Regions from separate parts of the Homo sapiens genome. Here region 1 is linked to region 2. Evidence: fine-mapped expression QTL. A gene starts in region 2. The other region holds a variant in brackets. All regions are shown on one strand. Distances are from middle to middle. Region 1 overlaps MS4A5 (membrane spanning 4-domains A5). Region 2 holds the start of MS4A7 (membrane spanning 4-domains A7).

Region 1 (4,397 bases), 61 kb before region 2:
TCAATTGTATTCAAAATTCTGTAATTTTATGGTCTGTCTACATATTCTTTCAGTTGCTGAGAAATGTGTGCTAAAATTTCTTATGATGATTTTAGCTTTCTCTACTCATTCAGCTGAGTTAGCTTTTCCTTTTGGCTTTGAGTTGTTATTAGGAGCATTCAAACCTAGAAATGTAATATTTCTCTTGTGAATCGACCCTTTTATTATAGAAAGTCCCCTATTATACGTTTAGCAATGCTTCTTGCCTTAAATCTATTTGTTTGTTACTAGTGTAGCTGTTTCTTGTAAACAGAATGCAGTTGTGTTTTGTTTTTTAAACTCTTATTTACTGGGACCATCTTTTTTTAAAATTTTAAATTTTTTAATTTTCTATTTTTATGGGTACATAATAGTTTTACACAGAAAATCTTCTAGTTCACTTTCTTTTATTTTATATTCCCTGAGGTATTTTAAAGTTTATCATTTCTTTCTTTTTTTTTTTCAAGTCTTGACATTTTTATTATTGAGGAGTATTTCAGACTGACAGATAATAAGAGAAGGTAGGTTATGCTGACAAATAGTAAGGATATACCCATTTTTTTTGTCGAGTTTCTAAGTCAGCTTGGAAAACTATTGGCTTATCTCCTTTCTTTTTTTTTCTTTTTTTTTTTAATGGCCTTTTTCTTTTTCTTTTTTTTTATTATACTTTAAGTTTTAGGGTACATGTGCACATTGTGCAGGTTAGTTACATATGTATACATGTGCCATGCTGGTGCCCTGCACCCACTAACTCGTCATCTAGCATTAGGTATATCTCCCGATGCTATCCCTCCCCCCCTCCCTCCACCCCATAACAGTTCCCAGAGTGTGATATTCCCCTTCCTGTGTCCATGTGATCTCATTGTTCAATTCCCACCTATGAGTGAGAATATGCGGTGTTTGGTTTTTTGTTCTTGCGATAGATTACTGAGAATGATGATTTCCAATTTCATCCATGTCCCTACAAAGGACATGAACTCATCATTTTTTATGGCTGCATAGTATTCCATGGTGTATATATGCCACATTTTCTTAATCCAGCCTATCATTGTTGGACATTTGGGTTGGTTCCAAGTCTTTGCTATTGTGAATAATGCCGCAATAAACATACGTGTGCGTGTGTCTTTATAGCAGCATGATTTATAGTCCTTTGGGTATATACCCAGTAATGGGATGGCTGGGTCAAATGGTATTTCCAGTTCTAGATCCCTGAGGAATTGCCACACTGACTTCCACAATGGTTGAACTAGTTTACAGTCCCACCAACAGTGTAAAAGTGTTCCTATTTCTCCACATCCTCTCCAGCACCTGTTGTTTCCTGACTTTTTAATGATTGCCATTCTAACTGGTGTGAGATGGTATCTCATTGTGGTTTTGATTTGCATTTCTCTGATGGCCAGTGATGGTGAGCATTTTTTCATGTGTTTTTTGGCTGCATAAATGTCTTCTTTTAAGAAGTGTCTGTTCATGTCCTTCACCCACTTTTTGATGGGGTTGTTTGTTTTTTTCTTGTAAATTTGTTTGAGTTCATTGTAGATTCTAGATATTAGCCCTTTGTCAGATGAGTAGGTTGCAAAAATTTTCTCCCATTTTGTAGCTTGCCTGTTCACTCTGATGGTGATTTCTTTTGCTGTGCAGAAGCTCTTTAGTTTAATTAGATCCCATTTGTCAATTTTGTCTTTTGTTGCCATTGCTTTTGGTGTTTTAGACATGAAGTCCTTGCCCATGCCTATGTCCTGAATGGTATTGCCTAGGTTTTCTTCTAGGGTTTTTATGGTTTTAGGTCTAACGTTTAAGTCTTTAATC[C/G]ATCTTGAATTGATTTTTGTATAAGGTGTAAGGAAGGGATCCAGTTTCAGCTTTCTACATATGGCTAGCCAGTTTTCCCAGCACCATTTATTAAATAGGGAATCCTTTCCCCATTGCTTGTTTTTCTCAGGTTTGTCAAAGATCAGATAGTTGTAGATATGCGGCGTTATTTCTGAGGGCTCTGTTCTGTTCCATTGATCTATATCTCTGTTTTGGTACCAGTACCATGCTGTTTTGGTGACTGTAGCCTTGTAGTATAGTTTGAAGTCAGGTAGTGTGATGCCTCCAGTTTTGTTCTTTTGGCTTCGGATTGACTTGGCGATGTGGGCTCTTTTTTGGTCCCATATGAACTTTAAAATAGTTTTTTCCAATTCTGTGAAGAAAGTCATTGGTAGCTTGATGGGGATGGCATTGAATCTGTAAATTACCTTGGGCAGTATGGCCATTTTCACGATATTGATTCTTCCTACCCATGAGCATGGAATGTTCTTCCATTTGTTTGTATCCTCTTTTATTTCCTTGAGCAGTGGTTTGTAGTTCTCCTTGAAGAGGTCCTTCACATCCCTTGTAAGTTGGATTCCTAGGTATTTTATTCTCTTTGAAGCAATTGTGAATGGGAGTTCACTCATGATTTGGCTCTCTGTTTGTCTGTTGTTGGTGTATAAGAATGCTTGTGATTTTTGTACATTGATTTTGTATCCTGAGACTTTGCTGAAGTTGCTGATCAGCTTAAGGAGATTTTGGGCTGAGACAATGGGGTTTTCTAGATATACAATCATGTCATCTGCAAACAGGGACAATTTGACTTCCTCTTTTCCTAATTGAATACCCTTTATGTCCTTCTCCTGCCTAATTGCCCTGGCCAGAACTTCCAACACTATGTTGAATAGGAGTGGTGAGAGAGGGCATCCCTGTCTTGTGCCAGTTTTCAAAGGGAATGCTTCCAGTTTTTGCCCATTCAGTATGATATTGGCTGTGGGTTTGTCATAGATAGCTCTTATTATTTTGAAATACGTCCTATCAATACCTAATTTATTGAGAGTTTTTAGCATGAAGGGTTGTTGAATTTTGTCAAAGGCTTTTTCTGCATCTATTGAGATAATCATGTGGTTTTTGTCTTTGGCTCTGTTTATATGCTGGATTACATTTATTGATTTGTATATATTGAACCAGCCTTGCATCCCAGGGATGAAGCCCACTTGATCATGGTGGATAAGCTTTTTGATGTGCTGCTGGATTCAGTTTGCCAGTATTTTATTGAGGATTTTTGCATCAATGTTCATCAAGGATATTGGTCTAAAATTCTCTTTTTTGGTTGTGTCTCTGCCCGGCTTTGGTATCAGAATGATGCTGGCCTCATAAAATGAGTTAGGGAGGATTCCCTCTTTTTCTATTGATTGGAATAGTTTCAGAAGGAATGGTACCAGTTCCTCCTTGTACCTCTGGTATAATTCGGCTGTGAATCCATCTGGTCCTGGACTCTTTTTGGTTGGTAAGCTATTGATTATTGCCACAATTTCAGCTCCTGTTATTGGTCTATTCAGAGATTCAACTTCTTCCTGGTTTAGTCTTGGGACAGTGTATGTGTCGAGGAATTTATCCATTTCTTCTAGATTTTCTAGTTTATTTGCGTAGAGGTGTTTGTAGTATTCTCTGATGGTCGTTTGTATTTCTGTGGGATCGGTGGTGACATCCCCTTTATCATTTTTTATTGCGTCTATTTGATTCTTCTCTCTTTTTTTCTTTATTAGTCTTGCTAGCAGTCTATCAATTTTGTTGATCCTTTCAAAAAACCAGCTCCTGGATTCATTAATTTTTTGAAGAGTTTTTTGTGTCTCTATTTCCTTCAGTTCTGCTCTGATTTTAGTTATTTCTTGGCTTCTGCTAGCTTTTGAATGTGTTTGCTCTTGCTTGTCTAGTTCTTTTAATTGTGATGTTAGGGTGTCAATTTTGGATCTTTCCTGCTTTCTCTTGTGGGCATTTAGTGCTTTAAATTTCCCTCTACATCCTGCTTTGAATGCATCCCAGAGATTCTGATATGTTGTGTCTTTGTTCTCATTGGTTTCAAAGAACATCTTTATTTCTGCCTTCATTTCATTATGTACCCAGTAGTCATTCAGGAGCAGGTTGTTCTGTTTCCATGTAGTTGAGCAGTTTTGAGTGAGATTCTTAATCCTGAGTTCTAGTTTGATTGCACTGTGGTCTGAGAGATAGTTTGTTATAATTTCTGTTCTTTTACATTTGCTGAGGAGAGCTTTACTTCCCAATATGTGGTCAATTTTGGAATAGGTGTGGTGTGGTGCTGAAAAAAATGTATATTCTGTTGATTTGGCGTGGAGAGTTCTGTAGATGTCTATTAGGTCTGCTTGGTGCAGAGCTGAGTTCAATTCCTGGGTATCCTTGTTGACTTTCTGTCTCGTTGATCTGTCTAATGTTGACAGTGGGGTGTTAAAGTCTCCCATTATTAATGTGTGGGAGTCTAAGTCTCTTTGTAGGTCACTCAGGACTTGCTTTATGAATCTTGGTGCTCCTGTATTGGGTGCATATATATTCAGGATAGTTAGCTCTTCTTG
Region 2 (4,397 bases):
CTGTAGGTTTGTTCTTGCCCGGCTAGCTACAACTGATTCTCATCCTCTCTATTCTTCCTCCCCTATTGTTGAAGCATTGGCTGCCACTCATCAGTTCCATATCCTCTCCCAGGGACATTGCTGATCTTAGGGAATATAGGTTGAAGATTTCTTTTTCCCAACTTGCTTTCATGTTGTAGAAACTTGGCTTTTACCTTGCTCTGTGTGGCTCAATAGCCCAAATATACCAACTAGACTCCTTCCTACTAGTCTTCGTCACCAGCCTCCTGAGTTCTGGGTTCCTTTCTTTATTTTTCGAATCTCATACCTAAGGACTGCAGAAAATGCTTGATTCTCAGCCTGAAGCTAGGACTCGAAAGTTTAATTGATACTTTCAGGCTATAGCCTATCTGATACCATGAACATTTATTTTCCTTTGTTATTTCTTAACTGTTTGTTCTGTTTGAAAGAGTGCATAAAGTACCACCATTACAAGGGAATACAGTTTGAAGAAGAAAACAAATTAGCTCCTTAACTTTCAACTGCCACCCGATCACTCTTGTTTCCTATGCACATATTCTTTACATTCTCTCTTCCCATCTGTCACTTTATCTCTCTCCTCTTTATATATGTTCACAGACATTCACAATTCTACGGAAATAGTCATTCTATCCATGCCATTTTATAACTGTTCTTTTTGTACTCAACATTATTCTGTAGACATCTTTGACCGATGAATAGAAATAATAAAAAGCCTAAATTTAAAAGCAAATGATAGATTCTGATACATGGCACAACATGGATGAACCTTGAAGACAATATGGCAAGTGAAATAATCCAGTCACAAAAGGACAAATATTGTATGATTCTACTTATGTGAGGCACCTAGAAGAGTCAAATTCACTGAAAGTAGAATGGTGGTTGCCAGGGGCTGGCGGGAGAGGGGAATGGAAAGCTATTGTTTAATGGGCACGGAGTTCCAGTTTGGGAAGACAAGAAAGTTCTGGAGTTGGGTGGTGGTGATGGTTGCACAATGGTGTGAATGTGCTTAATGCCACTGAACTGTACACCTAAAAATGGTTAAGGCTGGGTGCAGCGGCTCATGCCTGTAATCCTAGCACTTTGGGAGGCCGAGGCGGGCAGATCACCTGAGGTCAGGAATTCAAGACCAGCGTGGCCAACATGGTGAAACCCCGTCTCTACTAAAAAAATACAAAAATTAGCCAGGCATGATGGTGAGTGCCTGTAATCCCAGCTACTCAGGAGGCTGAGATGGGAGAATCGCTTGAACCTGGAAGACAGTGGTTGCAGTAAGCCGAGATCACGCACTCTAGCCTGGGTGACTGAGCAAAACTCTTTCTCAATTAAAAAACAAACAAACAAACAAACAAAAAACAACAAAAAAACACATGGTTAAAAGGCTACAATTATTTTAAGCATATTTTACTACAACCAAAAAGCCAAATGGTATATTTAAATAAATGGAGGTCTCTAGATTCATTTAATCAATCACATGTTCATGACTATTTAGGTGGTTTCTATTTTTTCTTTTTGCCACTATGAACAATGCAATAATGAACATCTTTGCACTTTTGTGATACCTCCTGCATTTAATTATCTCACAGTGATGTATGGAAGTGGAATTATTACATTTAAATCTATGACACTTGAATTTAGATACACGTTGCTACTTTTAGAAGGAATCCTATATAACCAAGATTCTTTATGTTTCACAAAAGTCTCCAGACTGATGCTATCATCTCCAAACACCACAGTCTGAGAGGATGCTTTGTCCTTCCACATTCGCCTTGAGGAGATAGACTGGAGGGACCCACAGCTTTCAAGACAGCTCTAAAATCCGTGCTTTGAAGATAAATCATGACATGGAGGTCAACAGCTCTGCCCAGCAATTTTCTGTATTACAGAATTAGAGTAGGACCATGGGGTTCTAATGCAAGATTCAGTCTAATTGCACAGTATTTGTTGAGAGTAGACTCTGTAAGACTGAGTGACACACCAGGAGAATGCAGAACATTGAGGAAAATCACCTCAATGAGGGAAACCTAAGAATGGTTTTACCCAATTTTCTTATTTGACAAGTGAGTAAACTGAGACCCAAAAAGGGGACTGAGCTGACGCTCCAACTCACACAGGTGGTCAGAATCAGAGACAGGATGATAATCCAATTCCCTGGCTGTCTTTTCAAAAGCACACAATCTTCCCCAAAAGTCATGATCTAAACCAAGGTGTCTACCTGTTCTCGCAGCCTGGTCCTGTGTGCTGTGGCTGGGGATCAGCTCACCTCTGGGGAGCGCTCAGCTGGAACCTCCCACTGGCTGTTCCTGCCAGAACGATCTTGGTGCTCTGCTCTCCAGCCTCTGAGACTTCCTGTCCCTTTCTTAGAGCAGTATTTATGATTACACAGGATGTGAATTTTGCTGTAGTTACAGACAGTTGATATATAAAAAGTGCCTCTGCTTCCTCTTTCTAAATTCTGAGGTCTGGCAAAATGACACAAGATAGAAGTGACACATGAGAAAAAGACCTTTGTGCAGACTAGTGATTTGTACGGTCCCAGTTAAAATTCATTTTCCCTACTCCTACATAGAATTATTTAAGTCATCTAGTTTTGCTTAGCCTGAGTTTTCTTGTCTATTAAATAAATGGTGGATGGATAATAATAATTCCACTCTGTGGGTGTTGGGAGAATTAAAGAAAAAAGATGCAAAGAGTTTACAAAAAGTAGACAATAAATATTGATAATAGTAATGTTAGTTTTGAATTTTGGAGAATCTATTCTCTCACTTTCCAGGCTCTTGGTAAGCTGAAAGCAACCTGTGGAAAATTCCGTGTCTCCTTGTTACTTCTTTTGGGTGTTTCCATTCTCCATCTTTGGCCTCATGCTCAGGGAAGTCCAGGCACATCTTGGGAAAGATGCCAGTGGATTGGCCTCAGAGGCAGAGTCATCAGGCTCCACACAAGCTCATATTTGGGGAAGTATTTGTTGTTGAGGGGACACTGTTGCCACTTTCACATCCCTTTTAAGGCTTCTTGTAGACTAGCCATTGTTCAGAAGGGTAGGGTTTAAGATGGCTCTGGGACATGCAGCAGCTGGCGGCACAACATGCTCCATATACAGTCTCCATTTCCTGAAGGGTGGCAAGGCTATCCCCTAAGAGAGGAGCAAACCTAAGCCTGGGAGATTTAAATAACTCATAAACTACTTGGAGGGTATTTTAGTCCAGTTCTTCTCCAAATGAGGTGATATTGCTGAAGGAATCTGCCCCCAGTCACATGTCTAGTCTGTGGAAGAGGCAGGAATCTAATTCACATCTCTTGGCACTGAGGTCTGGGCTTGCTTCATGGCAAGAGTCTGCCATTTGGTCAACATCTTTTTTTTTTTTTGAGATGGAGTTTTTTGCTCTTGTTGCTCAGGCTGGAGTGCAATGGTGCAGTCTCAGCTCACTGTAACCTCCACCTCCCAGGTTCAAGTGATTCTCCTGCCTCAGCCTCCCCAGTAGCTGGGACTATGGGTGCCCACCACCATGCCTGTCTAATTTTTGTATTTTTACTAGAGACAGGATTTCACCATGTTGGTCAGGCTGGTCTCGAACTCCTGATCTCAGGTGATCCACCTGCCTTGGCCTCCCAAAGCTGGGATTACAGGTGTGAGCCACTGTGCCCAGCTTAGTCAACATCTTCATATCCACAACAAGCACTGTCTTTGCTTAAGAAAACTTCCAGGATCCAGACCTTCCTCTGGGTCTATGACCTGTTTTGACCAAATTGTTAAAGAACCTTGGTCATTTGGGCTTCTTTCACACTTCTGAGCCTCAGAAGGAATTCGTGAGAAAATCAGTTAAATATCCAGTTCACTTTCTCATAAAATTTGAAAAAAGATTTTTCAGAATTGTTGTGAGGATTAAGTCAAATAACATAAAAGTCCCCACCATAGAGCCTGACATAAATGAACCATTAAGAAAATCTGGTATTTCTTGTCCAACATCTTCTCCCACCCCCTTTAGAGAAAAGTGTATTTTATCTCTAGATTGATCTCTGATCTCTAAGTGTAATCTATGTTTACTCTAAATTCATGCTCTTTTCCATTGATGGAAATCTCCTCAGCCCTTTGCAAACAGTCCTGGTGCTCTAGACAGGCAAGTGACTCACAGTCCTAGTGCCTACTTCAAGGATACGATCTCCCCGCCATCCCCACCCCAAGCAGACCATGAAGCTAGTAAAATGGAAATGCGTCTTATATGTTGGAGGACTCTAACAGCCTTGGACAGACTAACTGTATTTTTTTTCTCTAGCAGTGGAGATGACGGGCTGGGGCTAGGGCACAAGGTCTGGTTATCCAGAGAGAGATTCCTTGGAGCAGTGTTCATAGACCCCCCTGATGTTTGACTTGGTTATTG

The links. PIP is the estimated chance that this variant, and not a neighbour inherited with it, causes the effect.
Region 1: its variant is the best candidate, but not a certain one, in a credible set for the expression of MS4A7 in left ventricle (GTEx, PIP 0.84).

Annotation. Positions count from the first base shown.
Region 1 is chr11:60,437,710-60,442,106 of GRCh38, reverse strand. All of the region lies in intron 4 of MS4A5 (membrane spanning 4-domains A5), which reads right to left. Among named protein-coding and RNA genes, the nearest start is that of MS4A5, 10 kb to the right of the region's middle. The variant C/G (reference allele first, on the strand shown) is at 1,825.
Region 2 is chr11:60,376,501-60,380,897 of GRCh38, reverse strand. MS4A7 (membrane spanning 4-domains A7) reads right to left here and starts at 2,366. Exons shown (of 7, transcript NM_021201.5): 1 at 2,234-2,366. RefSeq lists enhancers at 2,365-2,414, 3,095-3,334.